Linked DNA regions of Homo sapiens. The protein of the gene in region 4 purifies or fractionates together with the protein of the main gene of each other region. This does not show direct contact. Each region holds a gene or a part of one and is shown on either strand. Other genes may lie near its edges. The genes, in order: CTDSP2, FAM174A, TMED5 and SQOR.

Region 1 (5,362 bases), on a different chromosome or scaffold from region 4:
TGAGTCCACTTGAGAAAGTACTGATCTAGAAGTCAGGAAACCCAGCTCTTGCTCCAGTTCAGCTTTTCAACAGTTCCGTGGCCTTGCTAGGGCACAATTCTCTGGGGTTCAGTTTCCTCATAAGCCAATCTGGAAAGGTTTCCCCTGCATGGTCCCTTAAAAGGTGGCTTCACCTGAAGCATGCACCTGAATCATGAACTCAAAAGCACTCTAAAAGGTGAAATGTTAGGCCGGGCACGGTGGCTCAAGCCTGTAATCCCAGCACTTTGGGAGGCCAAGGCGGGCGGATCATGAGGTCAGGAGATCAAGACCATCCTGGCTAACACAGTGAAACCGCGTCTCTACTAAAAATACAAAAAATTAGCCGGGCGTGGTGGCGGGCGCCTGTAGTCCCAGCTACTCAGGAGGCTGAGCCAGGAGAATGGCATAGACCCAGGAGGTGGAGCTTGCAGTGAGCTGAGATCGAGATCGCGCCACTGCACTCCAGCCTGGGCGACAGAGCAAGACTCCATCTCAAAAAAAAAAGTGAAATGCCAGACAATGCAAATGTCTGGCTGACACTAGCCATGTACCCTTGGGCAAAGTCCTTCCCTCTCCCTGTGAAAGTTTTCCTTATCTGTAAAGTGAGGTTAATTCCTCTTATTGGAAAGGAAAAGTTGTCAGGAGAACTAAGTGAGATACGAGATATAAAATGCTAGGAATAGTACCTTGCCTATGGCAAGTACTCTATAAATATTGGCTGTAACCATTACTGGGTAAACAAGGATGGATCATTACTCTGTCCATTTACTCTGAAAACTTTAGGACTCCCCTTGAAGAGCCACAGATCTTTAACATACAGTAAAACGGGACCACCAAGAGGAATTTTCCTGCTCGGGGCAAAACAGGCAGTTGGGGCCACTGCTGTGCCTACCTGGCTCTTCTCCAGGGGCACCTGTCAGAGCCACAAGGAGCATTTGGAACACATGCATGCCTGACCCACCTGCCCATGCGCTGATTCAGCAGATCCCAGGTGGGGGGTCTGTATTTTTAGCAAGTGTCACAGGAGACTCTGATGTGTGTCCCTGGCTGAGAGCCAGTATCTACCGGTTGCCAGGGTCTCTGACTAACCCAGGGCTAGAAGGCAATTCAGCCAAAGTCCCCTTGGCCCCTCTCCCCACCGTACCTGACTGGCTCAGTGTTTCTGCAAGCCTTAGAGGACTCATGCCTAGGATCCAGTTTTCTTCTCTAGGGGTAGTTCTATGTGACGTGAGTCAGAAAACCTGGGTCTGCTGTCTCTACCTGCAGGCCCCTGTTCCTGTGAAAGAGGGGTCCTAGCTCTATTCTGCTGCGGGAACAGAAAAGCTGGGATCTACTATCCAGGAAGCCTTCCGCAGGCAATTTGAGCCTTTCCATGAGTCTGCTTGGCTCTCACTGGGATTGGGGCCATATTTGTTCCCTGGGAACAATGCAGATGGGAAAGTGCAAATTCAAGAGGATGGAAAAAGCTGTGGCAAGAAATAAAAGAAGGTATAGAATAAAAAGAGAGTAAGAGCAAAGTCTGATTTGGGGGGATGGGGGTGGGGGAAGGACTAGAGCACCTAGGAGGGAAATGGAAATGTCAGATCCACTCAGAGATCAGGTTCAAGGCTAACTCCTAGAATAGCTAACATAAAACAGGGCATACACACTTTTGCCTAGAGGGAGGCTGTGGCGCTCACTGGAGTACCCTGTGATAACAGATCCTGGTGCAGGCATACTCAGACCTGAAGGGCTGGGCATTTTGCCAGACAAAGAAACTCCATTCTATTTGGTCTCTGGTCCAGAGATGCTTCCAGTTTTAAGTCGTCAACTTATCCACTTTAATTTCTAGTACTTTCTTTGTAAGATTTGCGTGTTAATGTGCTCATCTGCATCCCAGTTCAGAACTACTACTCCATTTCAGAAAAGTGAGGGAAATATGTCAGGGCCACACCCAATCCCACGTCCCAAAGACAAGCGAGTTAATTCCATGCTTCCCAGAGCTGGCCAGACTAAGACAAGATGAAAAGCAGATCAATGCTGCTTTTGTACTTTCTCAATGTTGTACCCCAAAACCACAGGAGCAAACAAATAGCTTAAGAACATCTATTTCTCTTCAAACCCCATTTTCTTTTTCCCCCTCTTATTAAAATTACCTAAAAGAAACCTCAATCTCTCTGAATTCATTAACTCTCAAAGCAGACAGTGAGAGAATGTAGCATACAGTTGTCCTGAATATTCGTTATATCCATATTTGAGAACCTCTAAGGAAGTTTAGACTTTAGAGACTCACAGGGGGCACATGCCTGGCCTTCTCCCACCCCCAGATGCCCAGGCACCAGACAGAATGGCCAAAGTCCCACAGCCCAGGCAGATAACAAATCACATCCCAAGTCACATGACACAAAGAAGGGGTCTGTGCAGCAAGGCTGTTTGTAAGCCTAAGAGGTTGATCCTTCCAGAAGGCCCAAGCCCCCACAATCAGTGTCCCCTCTGACCCCCGGCCACCTGTCTTGAAAAATAAAACCCACAAGACTACGTGCTGTTTACACTGTGTCCTTGGGGGAATGGAGGAGGGCGAACAGAGTAGTCTAACTATGTAAAGAGGGAGGACATTAATATTTATCAAGCACCTACTAAGTACCAAGTATAATAGAAGGGTAGATATCATTATTACTACTTTATAGATAAGTTACTCAGAATACTAAAGTGATTTATCAAGTCTCATTGCAAATAGGAAAAGAAGGTATTTGAACCCAGGCCTGAAGCAATTTTGCTTCAGAAACAATGCTTTGAAGTAACAATGTAAACTTTAACCACCATCCCTGACCCTGGTCCCCACTCTGTCCAATCTAAGAACCAAACTTACCATGATGGGAATAAAAGACAATACCCCAAATTACCCAAAAGCTAGCAGAAAAAAAAAATTGTAGGAGGAATTGGAAGGGAAGCTATGTATTGATATGTACACACATACACACAATCCCATATATATTTACATATTGTCTTTCTTTTCCATGCTTATTTACAAACACTTTAATTCTTCACAGGTTGGGAGCATCAATTCACGTTGGCTAGAAATGTGACTTCTTTAGTATTTACCATTTTAACAAAATCCATGATAAGGGATTTGGAAGGTCCCATGGAAAGGATGAAATGACACCTCTCTGCTACCCAGTTTCTTTAAGACCTCTACGGTTGAGAAGAGAGGACAAAGGAACACCCCCACCTCTGCCATCCTCCGAGGGATTTTTCACAGCAATTCCAGTGCTGCTCAGTGGAAAGCTCTGCAAGTCAACTGCAAACCCCCAGCCCCAGATGTTAGGCATTTACAAACTTTGTTGCTGATTTATCAGCGCTCCTCTGCAATTTTGGGGACAGGAGCAAACACAAGCTTAAGTCACCACGCAGGCTGCAACCCTTACCCAAAGATGGGGGAAAAACTCCAAAGGAGATGCAGGAGGGAGCCTCAGCAGTCACTGTGAGAGCACAAAGAGGCCAAGACCCAGGGTAGGCAAAGGAAGGTGAGAGGCACCAGCAGGGCAGGAGGAGGAGCCAGCTATAAACATGCAGGCTTCCCGCCCCCTGCATAGCAAGCTATGGAAGGAAGCTCCAGCAAGATTCATGTCTAAGCTTTTCAAGTTAAAGGCTTGCCTACATCTACAGTGAACGGTGTCTGAACAACTTTTTGAGGGAATAAGGCAGAATTTCTCCCTTATGCGGATAACAAAAGAGCTAGCCATCCTGAAAACTTGCCACATCGTAATTTTCAGAGATGGTCAGTCTCTCAGAAGAATCCTTGCAATTAGCTATCAGAACCTGTCCAGTTCGGCATGTGAGAAGGTAATCCAGGGCATCATCGAGAGGAAGGGGCATCAGGATTCATGGACAACAAAAAAATCTCTGATTCCTCCAAAAGGCGTGTGGGTCACTGAGCTCCGGAAGAGGCTGCCTCCACCAGGTCTCATTTCACGTTGGGAGGTTACAGCGTGGGTCTTGTTTCCTTGGCTTTCCCCCATCTAATCCCAAAGCCAAGGTCACAACCTCTTAGCAATGGGGTGACAATCTCATATAGAGCTGCAATCAACAGCCATTCTTGCCAAGCTGATATTAACATTTCTTTTTTCTTTTTGATGTTACACACAATCCTGTCCTTGCTGTACCAGAAAGCCATTTCACCCATCTGTCTGGGAAGATGATCCAATTTTGGTGCTTTTATCATCAATGCTTTCAGCAACTTTGTTCTACTTCCCCTACTGTAATTACTTTTGAATCATCAACGCACCCAGACAGCCTTAAACCTCAGAGAACAGAATGCTAAAAAAAGAAAAAAAAAACCCGCAATGGCAAGTAACTTCACTAAATAGCCACCCAAGCTAGGAGCAATTTGTTTCTTTCCAGAAATTTACTTATTAATAATAAGTACCTCACACTCCTTCTTCCCCTTTTTCCAAAGGCAGGCAAGGCATGGAGATGGGATGTTGTGGAGAGGACGGAGTGGGGAGAAGAAGGAACTCCAAAAGGAGCCAATTAAAACATCTGCTTCCCCAGTCCCCCAGCTTTTGTTTTTTGTTTTGTTTTGAAGACGTAGGTTTTGTTTGTAAATGATGTGGGACTCAGAAAGTTGGTTTAGTGGTTGCTGGGTGCCTAAGCAGCCCAGGAAGAAAGTCTGTCTTCTCTGGAATGCAATCAAATTACATGGGGAGGGGCCGGGCGCGGTGGCTCACGCCTGTAATCCCAGCACTTTGGGAGGCCGAAGGGGGCTGATCACCTCAGGAGTCGAGACCAGCCTGGGCAACTGGCGAAACCCCTGTCTCTACTAAAAAATACAAAAAAATTAGCCAAGCGTGATGGCGCGCGCCTGTAATCCCAGCTACTTGGGAGGCTGAGGCAGGAGAATTGCTTGAATTTAGGAGGCGGAGGTTGCAGTGAGCTGAGATTGCGCCACTGCACTCTAGCCTGGGCAACAGAGTAAGACTCCATCTCAATTAAAATAAAAAATTACATGGGGAGGGAGAGACCCAGTGGCTGCTGGCTTAAACCACACACACAAAAAAGGAGAAACATTAACTCCAAGAAAATCCAACACCAGCAACTTAACACTGTCAAGCCAGTTGCTTTGCTTTCTGCTGTTATCTATTCTGTAGCCTGCCATTCACCCTGGTGGATGAAACTTCCAGCTCTGATTTCTAAGATGCCCCGGCGCAGTCCAGCTTTCCCTTACTCCTCGCGTGGCCCCACGATGCCCAAGGCACACTCCCTGCAAGAGAGTCCCTGCAAGAGAGGAAGACCTAGTGGGGAAGCACAGGGCTCCTCCCCCTACTCATCACCACTGCCCCCTCTTGAATCCCCCCACATCTAG
Region 2 (5,362 bases), on a different chromosome or scaffold from region 4:
TTTCATTTAACAGCTTATATTCCAACACAGTTTCTTCAGTTCTGTTTACTGAAGTTCTTTTTGCTATCTACCCCATAGCTCACATTCACGTTGTTTTGCTCAAATAGATACAAACAATAGAATACCATCTCAAAATATTTTTTTTAATTTATTCTTCTGTTTTTATCTTTTATTTTAAGTTCAGGGGTACAAGTGCAGGGTCGTTACATAGGTAAACTTGTGTCATGTGGTTTTGTCGTACAGATTATTTCATCACCCAGTTATTAAGCCTAGGACCCATTAACTTCTTCATTCTTGCAATATGTATTAACTTGGGTGTGTGTGTGCATGTGTGTTTGTGTGCGTGTGTGTTTGTGTGTGTGTGTGTGAGAGAGAAATACTTATTAAATTTAATTTCCTTTTTGTATTCTGAAGATATTTTCTTTTTAGTTTGGGTTCTAGTGTTTGTAAATAGTGCTGCCTTGCAGAATTGGGGGACTAATTGTTTATGGTCTGATCATGTAGCTGTAATATATATACTGAGATCTATTCTCAGTAAGTGTTAAGACCTTTCCTAAGAGGTTTAGATAAATAAAATGACATGAGTATAGAATAAATGCCAATGTAAATAGAATGGGGAAAAAAGCCAACAAAGATTCAACCTAATAAGGAAAGACATCTTGGAATCCAGAGGGATTACTTGGGTGAAGGAGAATTAGAGTCCAGAGTCAGGTACAAATGCAAAGAAAACAGAAATCTTAGGATTACAGAAAAGAAGATGACTCAACAAAAATTGGACTACTAAGTCCTGTATATCTATATTTATATCTATATATGTCTATCCATCTATCTATCTAAGCTGTTTATATATATGCACACACACAAAGGAACTTTTAGTAATGCTGATAATTTGTTCATTTAATACAAATATGTTCATGAATTATACATTTTAATAGTATTACAGCCTGAATAGGCAAACATGAACAAAACAATTGCATCTGTTCTTCAGGCACTCACTTTCAATTAAAGACGCATATAAGATGAAAGAAAAGGGACAGAAACTGATATTCCATGCAAATGGTAACCAAAACAAAGCAGGGGTTGCTAAATTTATATCAGACAAATTAGATTTTAAGTCAAAAACTATCTCTTGAGACAAAAAAAAAAAAGATCATTACATAGTAAAGGAGTCAATTCACCAGGAAGATATGACAATTAGTATGACTCTATCAGAGCACCTAAATTATAAAGCAAATATTGACAGATCTGAAGTAGGAAATTGACAGCCATAAAATAATTTATGGGACTTTAATATCCCACTTACAATAATGAATAGACTATCTAGACAGAAAATCAATAAAGAAACCTCTGACTTAAACAACACTGTAGACCAGTGGACCTGACAGACATATACAGAACTTTGCACCCAACAGCAGAAGAATTCACATTCTTCTCAAGTGCCCATGGGATGCACTCTGAGATAAATCATCTTAGGTCACAAAACAAGTCTTAACAACTTTAAGAAGATTGAAATTATTCCAAGTGTCTTTTCCAACCTCCATGGAATAGAAATAGAAATCAATAACAGCAGGAAAACAGGAAAAATTATAAATATGTGGAAACTAAACGATATAGTTTGAATAAACCTCCAGGCCAAATCTCATGTCAATTGTAACCCTCCATGCTGAAATTGAAGCCTGGTCAGAGATGTTTGGGTCATGGGGACTGATCCCTCATGGCTTGGTGCTGTCCTTGTGATAGTGAGTTCTTGCAAAATGTGGTTGTTTTAAGTGTGTAGCACCTGCTCCTCCTTGCTCCTATATTTGCCGTTTGAAGTACCTGATCCCATTTCACCTTGCACCATGAGTAAAAGCTCCCTGATATATGCTCAGAAGCCAAGCAGATGTCAGCACCATGCTTGTATAGTCTGCAGAACCACGAGCCAATTAAACCTCTTTTCTTTATAAATTACCCAGTCTCAGGTATGTCTTTATAGCAATGAAAGAATGGACTAATACACTGAACAACACACTCTTGAGCAATTATTGGGTCAAATAGGAAATCAAAGGGAATTTTAAGAGCTATTTTGAGACAAAAAAAAAATGGCATAACAAAACTTATGGGATGCAGCAAAAGCATTGCTAGGAGAGAAGTTTATAGCAATAAATGCTTATGCTATGAAAGAAGAAAGACTTCAAATAAACAACCTAGCTTTACCCTTTCAGAAAGTGGCAAAAGAAAAACACTTTAAGCCTAAGCCTAAAATTAGCAGAACGAGGGAAATAATTAAGATTATAATAGAAATACATTAAATAGAGTTGAAAAAGACAATGAGAAAAATCAATAAAATTAAGATTTTGCGTATAGAAAAGATAAAATCAATAAACCATTAGCTAGACTAAGCAAAAAAGAAAAGGCTCAAATAAATAAAATCAGAAATAAAAGAGAAGAAATTACAATGGGTACCTCAGAAATTAAAGAAGACATGAGACTACTATGAACAATTATATGCCAACAAATTTGATAACCTAGAAAAATAGATAAATTCCTAGAAACATACAATCTATGAAACTTGAATCAAAAAGAAATTCGAAGTCCAAACAGACAAGTAACAAATAAGGAAATTGAATCAGTAGTCAAAACCTTCCAACAAAGAAATGTCCAAGACCATATGGCTTCATGGGTAAATTATACCAGACATTTAAAGAAGAATTAATACTCGTCCTTCTCAAATTATTCTGACAAATAGAAGAAGAAGCACTTTAAAACTCATTTTATGAGGCTAGTGTTATCCTGATACCAAAGCCAGACGAAGGAAAGCAAACCGCAGGCCAATACTCCTGATGAACATGATACAAAAGTCCTCAATAAAATGCTAGTTACCCAAATTCAGCAGCATATTAAAATGATGATACACCATGATTAAGTGGGATTTGTCCCTGGAATGCAAATATCTTTCAACACATGCAAATCAATGCAATAGAACACATTAATAGGTTGAAAGAAAAAAAGCCACAAGATCATTTCAGTAGACACAGAAAAAGCATTTGACAGTGCTATCCACATAGACAAATGAGGTTGCATCAAACTAAAATGCTTCTGCACAGCCAAGTAGATAATCATCAGAGTGAAAAGGAACTTTAATAATGGGACAAAATATTTATAAACCATATATGTATATACATATATATATGAGTTAATATCCAAAATTTATAAGGAGTGCATGTAAGTTAATAGCCAAAAATCTCACATAATCTGATTTTAAAATGGGCACATGACCCCTGTACTCTGTTGGTGGGAATGTAAGTTGGCACAGCTGTTATGGAAAGCAGTACAGAAATTCCTCAATAAATTAAAAATATAATTACCTTATGATTTAGCAGTTTTGCTGCTGGATATATATCCAAAGGAAACCATTATTACATAGAGAGATCTGCACTCCCATGTTCACTGCAGCATTATTCATATTAATCAAGCTGTGGAAATAACCTAAATGTGCATTGACAGATGTATTAGTCCGTTTTCATACTGCTTGGAAGAAATATCGGAGACTGGGTAATTTATAAAGAAAAAGAGGTTTAATGGACTCACAATTCTGCATGGCTAGGGAGGCCTCACAATCATGGCAGTAGGCAAAGGAGGAGCAAAGGCACATCTTACATGATGGCAGGCAAGAGAGCATGTGTAGGGGAACCACCCTTTATAAAACCATCAGATTTCATGAGACTTATTCAATATCATAAGAACAGCATGGGAAAAACTTGCCCCTGTGTTTCAATTACCTCCCACCAGGTTCCTTCCATGATACCTGAGGATTAAGGGAGCTACAATTCAAGATGAGATTTAGGTGGGGGCACAGCCAAACCATATCAACAGATAAATGAATTTGAAAAGTATGATATATATATATATATATATATATATATATGTACATATAATATATATAATTACATGTATGATATACTATTGAATATTATTCAGCCTTAAAAAAAAGAAAATCTGGACATTTGCAACAACATGGATGAACATGGAGGAATTTATGTTATTTGAAACAATCCAAACATAGAAAGACAGATATTGCATTATCTCACTTATATATGGAATCTAAATAGTCAAGCTTATAGTAGTGAATAGAGTAGGGGTTAACAGGGGCTGCAGAGAAGGGAAAACAGGAAGATGTTAGTCAAGGGATCCAAAATTTTAGTTATGCAAAATGAGTAAGTTCATTTATGCAAGATGAATAAGCTATGCAAGATGAATAACTTGTACAGCAATGTGAATATAGTTAACAATACAATACAGTAGTGTATACTTTTAAGTTTGCTAGGAGGGTAGATGTTAAGTGTTCTTGATACACACAAAAATATGTTAATCTCAAGAGGTGATGGATATGTTGATTAGCATGATTGCAGTGATTGTTTCACGTAGTATATGCACATCATGCACATCATAACATCATAACATTAAGGTAAACACCTTAAGCATATCCAATTTTTATTTACCAATTATACCTCAGTAAAGATGGAGAAATAAAAAGTTCATGAAACAGTTGTAATCTATGCTAATCATCAATTCTATAGACCATAAAAAGTCATTTTGAAAATTTTAAGACAAGGGAAACTTTGATTACAAAGTTACGTTTTGAAGATTACCCTGACTGCATGGGTTGAAGGAGACCACGATAAAGAGTAAGGTGACAAAGAAGAAAAGTAGTTAGATGGTGCAAATGCATGGGATGACTTGCATTACAGTTACAGCAGGAAAGGCAGAGAGGAGTGAATTATTTAAGCAGCTTTGGAAGGTATTAATTACCTTCCTTAATTACCATCTTAACCAAGATGTAGGTCCTGTTTCGAAAGTGAAAGAACAAGAATTGGTTATAATAATGGTAAAGCATGTTTCAGGGATAAGAATGAAATCATCTTGAGTTATTTAGTAATCTGACCCAATTTACTTAATAAATAAGGCAAAACTTCTTTAATATATATCTAAATAAAGTGACAGGAACAGCACATTACTATTTACCTATTCATTAATTTATCTAACAAATGAATGATGTAGCAGCTATCTATTTGCCAAGCACTGGTCTATGTGTTTGAGATACATTAGAGAGCAGAACAAAACAAAACAAAACAAAAAAATCTGACTTTGTGAAGTTTGACTGCCAGTGGGGAAAAGATGAGTTAGAGAGGTTAACAGTTTATTTTTCATCTTCAGTTTTCCTTCTATATCTATCTGATTTTTTTCTTCGAGGAGCATATATTCATGCGTTACTTTTTTAAAAATTATTTTTGTCTGGAAATAATTTTAAACTTACAGAAAGTTTACAAGAATAAAAACAGTACAAAATATTCTATACTTGTTTTCCAGATTTACTAGTTAT
Region 3 (5,362 bases), on a different chromosome or scaffold from region 4:
CCATGAAATACTATGCAGCCATAAAAAAGAATGAGATCATGTCTTTTGTGGGAATATGGGTTGAGCTGGAGGCTATTATCCTTAGCAAACTAACACAGAAACAGAAAACTAAATACCACGTGTTCTCACTTAGAAGTGAGAGCTAAATGGTAAGAACTTATGAACACAAAGACGGAAACAACAGACACTGGGATTTACTTGAGGAGGGAGGGTGGAAGGACAGAGAGGCACAGAAAAGTTAACTATTGGGTACTGGGCTTTATATCTGGGTGATGAAATACTAAGTTGGTGCAAAAATAATTGTGGTTTTTAACACGTTTACCTATGTAACCTTCACATGTATCCCCAAGCCTAAAATAAAAGTTAAAAAAAAGAGAGATATGGGGTCTCACTATGTTGCCTAGGCTGAATTTGAATTTGGGCACAAGTGATACTCCCACTTCAACCAGCCTCCTGGGTAGCTGGGACTACAGGCACATGCCACCACACCTGTCTCCTTTATGAATTTTTTTACTTCCAATTATAAAAGTAATATACAACCTCCTTAGAGTAAGTCAAACAATACAAAGATGTAAAAGCAAAAAAAGCTGGGTGCGGTGGCTCACACCTGTAATCCCAGCATTTTGGGAGGCCAAAGTGGGTGGATCACGAGGTCAGGAGTTGGAGACCAGCCTGACCAACATGGTGAAACACCATCTCTTAAAAAAAAAGAAAAAACAAAAAACAAAAATTAGCTGGGCGCAGTGGTGCGCGCCTGTAGTCCCAGCTACTCGGGAGGCTGAGGCAGGAGAATCACTTGAACCCGGAAAGCAGAGATTGCAGTGAGCCGAGATCGTGCTGCTGCACTCCAGCCTGGGTGACAGAGTGAGACTCCATCTCAAAAAAAAAACAAAAAAAAACCTCTTTGTAACTCTATTGAATGCCTGTTGTCATTCTCCTAGATGTGAACTCTTCCACACCTTTTCCCATACTCATAAAAACATATAGGGTTTGATGGGGTGAAACACATATGATTATTTAATTAAAATGTCATGGTCTTTAAGTCCTTACAAAGTTTTTACCAATAGGTAAACAAACCAAATCAGTTTTTAATAAGGAAGTCTATTGGTTCATATAACTGGAAGTCTGAATAGGACTGATTTCAGGCTTAATTTGTTTTCCTCTGGTTCTTACGGCTCTGCTCTCTTGACTTTTCTTAAAGAATTGAATTACTTAAAGAATTCTTCACTGACAGATATTTTTCCTAAATGCATCAAAACTAGTATTTTATTGTCTTCTGACTTCGATTATAGCTGTTGAAGCTTCCTGTCAGTTTGTTATATATTTGTAGTTCATCTCTATTTTCTCTTGTAGCTTTTTAAATTTTCTGCTTCTGCATTTTCACTGCAGTTTAAGTGGATCATCCAAGCTTCTTAATCTCTCATAATTTCTCTCTTTGTCTCACTCTCCTATTTTATGGATAATTTCTTCAGCTCTATCTTCTACATCATTAGCTTTAAAAATTTATTATCAGTATTATTTTTGATTGGCAAATTATAATTGTATACATTTATGCGGTATAGCGTGATGTTTTGATACATATATACAACATGTAATGATTAAATCAGGCTAATTAACATTGCCTTGCCTATAATTTTTTATGATGAGCTATTTGAAATTCAGTCTCAGTTATTTTGAAATATACATTATTATTGACCATAGTCACCTTCCTGTGCAATAGATCTCAAAACCTATTCCTTCTGTCTATCAGAAACTTTGTACTCTGTGATCAACAGCTCCCTATTCCCTCTCTCCCCAAGTCCCCCACCCCCAGCTTCTGGTAACCATCGTTCTACTCTCCACTTTTAGGAATGGAACTGTATGGAATTCTAGGAATTCCACATATGAGATAATGCAGTATTTGTCTTTCTGTCCCTGGCTTATTTCACTTAGTGTAATGTCCTCCAGTATTCCATTGTGTATCTATACCACATTTTCTTTATTCATTCATTAATGGACACTTAGGTTGTTTCTATGTCTTGACTATTGTGAATAATGCTTCAATGAATATGGGAGTGCAGATATCTCTTTTACATACTGATTTCAGTTCCTTTGGATGTATACCAGAAGTGAGATTACTAGATGATATGGTAGTTGTATTTGTGGTTTTTTGAGGAACCACCATATTGTTTTCCATAGGGCTGTACTAATTTACATTCCCACCAACAATGTACTAATTTGTTTTTTCTTTTTTGAGATGAGGTCTTGCTGTGTAACTCCGCTGGTCTCAAACTCCTGGGCTCAGGATCCTCCCATCTCAGCCTCCTGAGTAGCTGGGATTACTGGGATTATAGATCTTGTACATATTTTGGTAGATTTGTACCTAATTCTTTTTTTCTTTTTTTTTCTTTTAGTGCTAACGTAAATGGTATTGTATTTTTTATTCCCAACTCCAGTTGCTTGTTGCTGGTGTATAGGAAAGCAGTTGACTATTGTATGTTAATATTGTATACTGAGACTTGGCTATCATCACTTATTAGTTCCGGGACGGGTTTTTTTTTGGCAGTTCTTTAGGATTTCTACATGGACTATCACAAGGACAGTTTTATTTCTTCTTTTCCAATAGGTATGTCTTTTCTTTCCCTTTCTTGTTGTATTACATTAGCTCGAGCTTCCAGTATAGTGCTGAGTAGGAGTAATGAGGGAGTAGCATCTTTGTCTTGTTTCTGATTTTAGTGAGAAAGCTTCTAGTTTCTCGCCATTAAGTGTGATCTTAGCTGTAGGATTTTTGTAAATGTTCTTAAGTTGAGGAAGTTCCCCTCTATTCCTAGTTTGCTAAGATTTTTTTAATATTAAATATCATGGATTGATATTGGATTTTATCAAATATGTTTTCCATACCCATTGCTGTGATCATCTGAGTTTTCTTCCTTAGCCTGTTGATGTGATGAATTACACAAAATAATTCATGAATGTTGAGCCAGGCTTATATACTTGGAACAAATCCATCTGGTCATGGTTGTAATTCTTTGTTTACATTGTCGAATCAGCTTTGCTAATATTTTGTTGAAGATTTTTGCATCTGTGTTCCTAAGAGATACTGGTATGTAGTTTCCATTTCTTGTAATGTCTTTTCTGGTTTTAGAATTAGGGTAATGTTGGCCTCACAGAATGAGTAAAGAATTGTTCCCTCAGCCTTTATTGTCTGTAAGAGATTTTAGAGAATTGGTTTCATTTTGTCCATAAATGTTTGGTAGGATTCACCATTGAAACTGTCTGGTCCTGGTCCTTTCTTTTGGGGGAGGTTATTAATTATCAGTATAATTTCTGTAACAGATACAGGCCTATTCAGGTTATCTATTTCTTGTATGAGTTTTGGTACTTTATATCTTTCAAGGAATTGGCCTGTTTCATCTAAGTTTTCAAATTTGTGGGTATAGATTTATTAATAATGTTCCACTGTGTCCGGAATTGGCGGGTTCTTGGTCTCACTGACTTCAAGAATGAAGCCGCGGACCCTCGCGGTGAGTGTTACAGTTCTTAAAGGCAGCGTGTCCGGAGTTTGTTCCTTCTGATGTTCGGATGTGTTCGGAGTTTCTTCCTTCTGGTGGGTTTGTGGTCTCGCTGGCTCAGGAGTGAAGCTGCAGACCTTTGCAGTGAGAGTTACAGCTCTTAAGGTGGCGTGTCTGGAGTTGTTCGTTCCTCCTGGTGGGTTTGTGGTCTCGCTGGCTTCAGGAGTGAAGCTGCAGACCTTCGTGGTGAGTGTTACAGCTCATAAAGGCAGTGTGAACCCAAAGAGTGAGCAGCAGCAAGATTTATTGCAAAGAGCAAGAGAACAAAGCTTCCACAGTGTACAAGGGGACCCCAGCAGGTTGCCACTGCTGGCTGAGGCAGCCTGCTTTAATTCTCTTATCTGGCCCCACCCACATTTCGCTGATTGGTCCATTTTACAGAGAGCTGATTGGTCTGTTTTACAGAGAGCTGATTGGTCTGTTTTGACAGGGTGCTGATTGATGTGTTTACAATCCCTGAGCTAGACAACAAAAGTTTTCCACTAGATTAGCTAGATACAGAGAGTGTGGATTGGTGTATTTACAAACCCTGAGCTAGACACAGAGTGCTGATTGGTGTATTTAAAATCCCTTAGCTAGACATAAAGATTCTCCAAGTCCCCACCAGACTCAGGACCCCAGCTGGCTTCACCCAGTGGATCCCGCACCTGGGCCGCAGGTGGAGCTGCCTGCCAGTCCCATGCCGTGCGCCTGCACTCCTCAGCCCTTGGGCGGTTGATGGGACTGGGTGCCGTGGAGCAGGGAGTGGCGCTCTTCGGGGAGGCTTGGGCCGCGCAGGAGCCCACAGTGGGGGGCTGAGGGGAGGCTCAGGCATGGCGGGCTGCAGGTCCCAAGCCCTGCCCCGCGGGGAGGCAGCTAAGGTCCTGCGAGAAATCGAGCACAGCAGCTGCTGGCCCAGGTGCTAAGCTTCTCACTGCCCAGGGCTTGCAGGCCGGCCGGCCGCTCCCAGTGCGGGGCCGCGGAGCCCACGCCCACCCGGAACTCGAGCTGGCCCGCAAGCATCACGCGCAGCCCCAGTTCCCACCCGCGCCTCTCCCTCCACACCTCCCGGCAAGCTGAGGGAGCCGGCTGCGGCCTTGGCCAGCCCAGAAAGGGGCTCCCACAGTGCAGCGGCGGGCTGAAGGGCTCCTCAGGCGTGGCCAGAGTGGGCGCCAAGGCCAAGGAGGCGCTGAGAGCGAGCCAGGGCTGCCAGCATGCTGTCACCTCTCACCACTATTATCCTTTTATTTATATTTTTTAAGATGGAGTCTTGCCATCACCCAGGCTGGAGTTCAGTGGCACGATCATACCTCACAGCAGCCTTGAACTTCTGGGCTCAAGTGATCCTCTCACCTCAGCCTCCCAAGTAGCTAGGGAGGCATGCACCACCATGCCTGCCTAATTTTGTGTGTGTGTGTGTGTGTGTGTGTGTGTGTGTGTGTACAGACAGGGTCTCACTTTGCTGCCTAGGCTAGTCTCAAACTCCTGGCTTCAAGTGATCCTCCCATCTCAGCCTCCCAAAGTGCTGAGATTACAGGCATTGGCCACCACGCCTGGCCATTATTATCTTTTTAATGTCCATAGATAATTAATGATGACCCAGCTTTTATTTCTGATATTAGTGTTCTGTGTCTTTTCTCTTTTTTTTCTTGGTTTGCCTGACTAGAGGTTTGTTAGTTTTATTGATCTTTTTAAAAAACCAGTTTTTTGCTTCATTGATTTTTTTTTTTCTGCGTTGATTTCTTGTTATCAATTTTCTTGATTTCTGCTCTAATGTTTTTCTTCTGGTTGTTTTAGGTTTGTATTACTGTTCTTTCTCTGGCTTCCTAAGG
Region 4 (5,362 bases):
TGAGCTGAGATTGCACCACTGCACTCCAGCCTGGGTAACACAGCGAGACTTCGTCTCAAAAATAAATAAATAAATAAATACATATCAAAGCCTGAAACTAATCACAAGAAAACACTGACAAACTCAAAATGAGGAACATTCTACTGAAAGAAAAGTGGTGGGGGAGAGGGCTGTATTATTTCAAAATATCAACGTCATAGAAGACAAAGAAAAGCTATAGAAACATCACAGATTAAAGGAGGCTAAATAGACCTCACAATTGAATGTAATACCTGACTGTAGCCTGAGTCCTGCACTGGAGGAAAAAATGCTACAAACACAGTTGGGCCAATCAACTAAATTGGAATACAAATAGTAAGTTAAAAAATTGTATCTGTGCTAAATTTCCTGAGTTGATAATGGTACTGTGGTTATGTAAGAGAACACTTCTATTTTAGAAAATTAACACTAAAGTATTTGGGGCTAAAGAGAGCTGATGCATGATATATGTAAATTTCCTTGGAAAAACTAGATATGGATGGATAGATAGATAGACAAAGGCAGATAGAAGAAAGAGAGAAAGAAAGAAAGGAAAGAAGGAAGGAAGGAAGGAAGGAAGAAATCAAATGATAAAGCTAAAGCAAATGGTAAAATTCTACAAGTGAATCTAGGTAAAAGCTACATACAATTTTCTTTGTACTATTTTTATTTTGTAACTTCTCTAAGTTTGAGATTATTTCTTTTTTTTTTTTTTTTTAGACGGAGTCTCACTCTGTCACCCAGGCTGGAGTGCAGTGGTACAATCTCGGCTCACTGCAGCCTCCGCCTTCTGGGTTCCAGCGATTCTCCTGCCTCAGCCTCCCGGGTAGCTGGGATTACAGGGATGTGCCACCACGCCCAGCTAATTTTTGTATTTTTAGTAGAGATGGGGCTTCACCATGTTGGCCAGCCTGGTCTCGAACTCCTGACCTCAAGTGATCCACCTGCCTTGGCCTTCCAAAGTGCTGGGATTACAGGCGTGAGCCACCATGCCCAGCCAATCCCTGTTTTCTTCAACTACCCACAGGGTTACTTCCTGCTCACAAGCAGGACTGTTTCTCACATGCCACCAATTGAGACAATCACCAGATCTTGCATTCGAGGAAGCCCTCCCTTACCTCTACACAGTAACCAAAGTTGTGGAATATTTTTGGCTACCTCAAGTGACTCGATGCCAGGAAAAGTTGAGTCAAAGGAATAGGACAAAAATTCACTTGGCACCAGCTAACGACACCTTCTCACCTCCCACTGACACAGCCTCTTACATCTTTCTCTTCCCCAACCATTTTGGCCTACCTTCTTGCCCTAACACTTCCCTAAGATGCTCATTTCACCCAGTCTTCCCCAGCACACAATGATGGCAGATAGGGTGGTGTGAGCCCCCATGTATCTATGGCACGTTTCAGCAGACAACGCTTCATGCTGACAGCTTAGCCTCACCACTCACTGAAATCACTTGGGTCTCTCCTGGTTTGTCCAGGTTCTCAAATACAGCCTCTTGTTTATCGGCTCGGACTTCAATGAGGTTTTTCTTGTAGTTAACAGTGAGGTTCCGCTCCTGGATGATCTCCTGCAGGGCATCTGCATACTTCTTAACCCCGAAAATGGCTCCAAGAGAAGTGTTGAAAATGATATTGGCCTTGGATCGCTTCCCTGTCTGAGAAAAATAAGAAAACCATTCACACCAAAGCATGACTGCAGCTGCCTTTTTTTTTTTTAATCCAGACAAGAATTAAAACCCTCAGCAGGGACCTTGCTAGCTTTTGCCACCATTATGTCCTGGCAGAGCAATGGGTAGACCAATCCACTGCCTCCTCCTTATGTTCTGCCCATGACATACAACTAAGTACACACTTGAGTTGGGGGCTGAGGTGGGCACTGTCCAGCTGAAGGCCAGAGGTGAAGGTTAGGTCCAGGTCAAGACAGAGTAGAGTAGAACGGAATGTTTATTCATATATTCATGTATTCATTTACTCAATAAATATTTAACAAAGTTCTAGAGTTGGCCAGATACTGTCCTAGGTGCTGAGGGAACAGCAGTGAGCAAAACTGAGTTCCAGCCAGGCGCAGTACCTCACACCTGTAATCCTAGCACTTTGGGAGGCCGAGGCAGGCAGATCACCTGACGTCAGGAGTTCCAGACCAGCCTGGCCAACATGGTTTGAGACAAGCCTGTCTCTACCAAAAATATAAAAATTAGCTGGGCATGGTGACAGGCGCCTGTAATCCCAGCTACTCAGGAGGCTGAGGCAGGAGAATGGCTTGAACCCAGGAAGCGGAGTTTGCAGGGAGCTGAGATTGCACCATTGCACTCCAGCCTGGGTGACAGAGCAAAATTCTGTCTCCAAAAAAAAAAAATAAACAAACTAAAAAACAGTAACAACAAAACCCTGAGTTCCTACCTTCTTGATATTGTTCAGAGAGGCCAATATTCTCCCAAATGCCTAAGATCAGAGAGGCCAATATTCTCCCAAATGCCTAAGATCTTATGGTACTCGAACCTTCCTCGTAGGCCATCTAAGACTTGGGAGAAAAGAGTTACACAAAGAAGTTTCCAGGACGGAAGAAACAGCTGGTTTCTTCTTCTTTCCTTTGCTCGGCTCCTTTCATGATTTGCTCACCCGGATCTCACCATTTGAAGAATTCAGGTGGGTAAGTGTCTCAAAAGGCTGTGCCAGCCCTTTATGACCCAGAATGAACTTTCTTGGGGTCAGAAATGATTACTGGAACTGCCTTTAATTCCCTACCTCACAGGGTTGTTGCAGTTTACAGAGCTCAGGGGAAGGTCTTGATCAGTCCCAGCCTCCATGAGCACATTCAACCACTCCCCAGCCCGTTCTTCCCCACCCTTCTTCCCATCTGTCCCCATACACGACTAGCTGCTAGAAATCCTGCCACTGTCTCAAGCCAAACCGCACTTTGGTAAACTAAATGTCAAACCCCAGGCAAGAGCAGGGAGGGCAAGAACAGCTTCCCTTACAAGCTTAAGCCAGGTGTACTTGAGCTGCAGACAACTGCTCTTACACAGAGAGCATTTGGAGAATGCTGAGAAAGTCTCCTCCTGCCCAAATATCTCTTTTCATGAAGGTTTAAAGTTCTATGAGAACATTTTTTTGCTTTTTAAATTGGCATTTTCCGTATCATATTTTTTTAATGTATACCCAAGGGACAGAAAATATTCATGACCTTAAACTTGAGTGGAAGTAGTGGATAGCATTATGGATAAAAATGAACAATCTGCAACTAATTGTCTAACTATATGGAAATATTTAAACAGTCTCTAACATATCTCTCCAGTAGACTTTTTTTTTTTTTTTAAGACGGAGCTTCGCTCTTGTTGCCCAGGCTGGAGTGCAATGGCACAATCTTGGCTCACCACAACCTCCGCCTCCCAGGTTCGAGCAATTCTCCTGTCTCAGCCTCCCCAGTAGCTGGAATTACAGGCATGCACCACCACGCCCAGCTAATTTTTTTTGTATTTTTAGTAGAGACGGGATTTCTCCATGTTGGTCAGGCTGGTCTTGAACTCCTAACCTCAGGTGATCCACCCACCTTGGCCTCCCAAAGTGCTGGGATTAGAGGCGAGAGCCACCACACCCAGCATCCAGTAGACTTTTACACACACATTTAAAAAGTATGTAACAAAGACTATTTAATATTACATAATACAGCTAAATTTTTCATGTACACTATGACTGTAACCATATTTAAGTATACAGAAAAAAAGCTGGAAAGCCATGTCAAATTGAAAACTGCAGCTTTATTAAAGCAATTGGATCATGAGTGATTTTCTCCTCTTTTATATTTTATAAACTTCCAGTTAACTAATTTTGTACACATGTAATAAAAATTCCGAGATAAAAAAGGGATTACAATAGAGATAAAATGGAATTCTTGCAATCAGTGAATTAGCACTGTCCGCCCTGCTCATCTCTGTCCCCAGAAAGGAAGCATACCTTCCTGAAGTAGGCTTCTGATAAGTACATGATCTTCTGAGGGGCTCCAGCACACTTCACTGGAGTATTTGGGAAGGTGAAGATGGCATTGCCCTCTTTGAAGTCCTGCAGAGCTTTCCATGTCTTCTCTACAGTCTTAACTGAATAATTCGACCCTATTTTGGGATGAGCGAAACCTTCAGGTAGGCCTTTAATCTGCAACAAAGTACACAAAAATTATTTTAAACAAAAGTGCAAATGTCTTTAGAGTCCTTGTTCTTTGCCATTTCTACAACCTTTCAAATATTTCAGTACTATCATTACCCTCCAATACCCACATGCCTAGAGCAGGCAGGTGGGTGAGGGTTCTAAGACCAGAGCTGTGGCACCTGTAGTCACCTGTCAAACTGCAGAATGGGCTCAGCTCAGAGGAACCCTTCAACTCCCTGGCCTTGAGAATACAATTTGAATACAACTTTTCCCACCATCGGAGTGAGGACAAGACGCCAGCCAGCCTTCCTTTTAGGAGACCCAGTTGCCTCACTGGAAAGAACAACTGGCAGGACCAAGAGCCATTTATATCATCAAGAATAGCAAACTTAAATCACTCTTTATCAGGTTGTACCAGACCAAACTCTAGATAAAGGCACTAAAGCCAGGTGCCTAAAAACATGGACTTTAGGATCCCACATACCAGTTTGAGTCCTGGCTCTTCCACTTACTAGCATTGTGACCCTGTGTAAATTACCTAATACTTCTAAGCCAGTAGGTCTCCAAGTGTGGTGCTCAGACCAGCAGCACAAGCACCACCTGGGAACTTGCTAGAAATGCAGATTATCAGGCCCCACCCTAGACCTACTGAATCAGAAACTGGGAGCAGGCCCAGCAATCTGTGTTTTAACAAGCCCTCCAGCTGATTCAGATGCACACTCAGGTTTGAGAATCCTAACGTTCACCATCTGTGAAATGGGGATAAGGTATCTGCTTCACAGGGTTGTAGGCAGAAGCAAATGAGGCCATGCATGTACAGGACACATGCACATGGCAAATGTCCTGTAAATGTTAGCTGATTATTGCCAATAAGATCAACTAGACACCTATTATAAATGTTAGAAGGCTCGTAGAGTGCAATGAAGATGTCACAGACTGAGTTAAAGAGACTTAAGCCTCAGTTCTCAGCAAGAGCAGGTTCAACTTCAATCATCAAGAAACAGTCATCAAGATGGCCTGGTCCTTCAGAGCCTCCCCAGCCCATTCTCTGGGCCACCTCCAAAGTCACTCCAGACACTTATCCCTGAGGTCTCAAGGAAACAGAGTCCTCTCATCTCCTCAGTGGCCTGAGTTCATTACTTATCACACTCAATGTTAAAAGCAACTATTTGTTACTGTTCACCCCTGTTACAGTTAGA

The links.
Region 1: the proteins of SQOR (region 4) and CTDSP2 purify together in Homo sapiens (co-immunoprecipitation; one large-scale study listed by IntAct). This does not show direct contact.
Region 2: the proteins of SQOR (region 4) and FAM174A purify together in Homo sapiens (co-immunoprecipitation; one large-scale study listed by IntAct). This does not show direct contact.
Region 3: the proteins of SQOR (region 4) and TMED5 purify together in Homo sapiens (co-immunoprecipitation; one large-scale study listed by IntAct). This does not show direct contact.

The regions. Positions count from the first base shown.
Region 1 is NC_000012.12:57,839,209-57,844,570, forward strand, and holds part of CTDSP2 (carboxy-terminal domain RNA polymerase II polypeptide A small phosphatase 2), read right to left. Parts: intron 4,554-5,362; exon of another isoform or gene 3,051-4,553; intron 1-3,050. UniProt on the Homo sapiens protein: Preferentially catalyzes the dephosphorylation of 'Ser-5' within the tandem 7 residue repeats in the C-terminal domain (CTD) of the largest RNA polymerase II subunit POLR2A.
Region 2 is NC_000005.10:100,562,265-100,567,626, forward strand, and holds part of FAM174A (membrane protein FAM174A precursor), read left to right. Parts: intron 1-5,362.
Region 3 is NC_000001.11:93,169,493-93,174,854, reverse strand, and holds part of TMED5 (transmembrane emp24 domain-containing protein 5 isoform 1 precursor), read left to right. Parts: intron 1-5,362. UniProt on the Homo sapiens protein: Potential role in vesicular protein trafficking, mainly in the early secretory pathway. Required for the maintenance of the Golgi apparatus; involved in protein exchange between Golgi stacks during assembly.
Region 4 is NC_000015.10:45,672,414-45,677,775, reverse strand, and holds part of SQOR (sulfide:quinone oxidoreductase, mitochondrial), read right to left. Parts: intron 4,170-5,362; coding exon 3,975-4,169; intron 1,676-3,974; coding exon 1,466-1,675; intron 1-1,465. UniProt on the Homo sapiens protein: Catalyzes the oxidation of hydrogen sulfide with the help of a quinone, such as ubiquinone-10, giving rise to thiosulfate and ultimately to sulfane (molecular sulfur) atoms.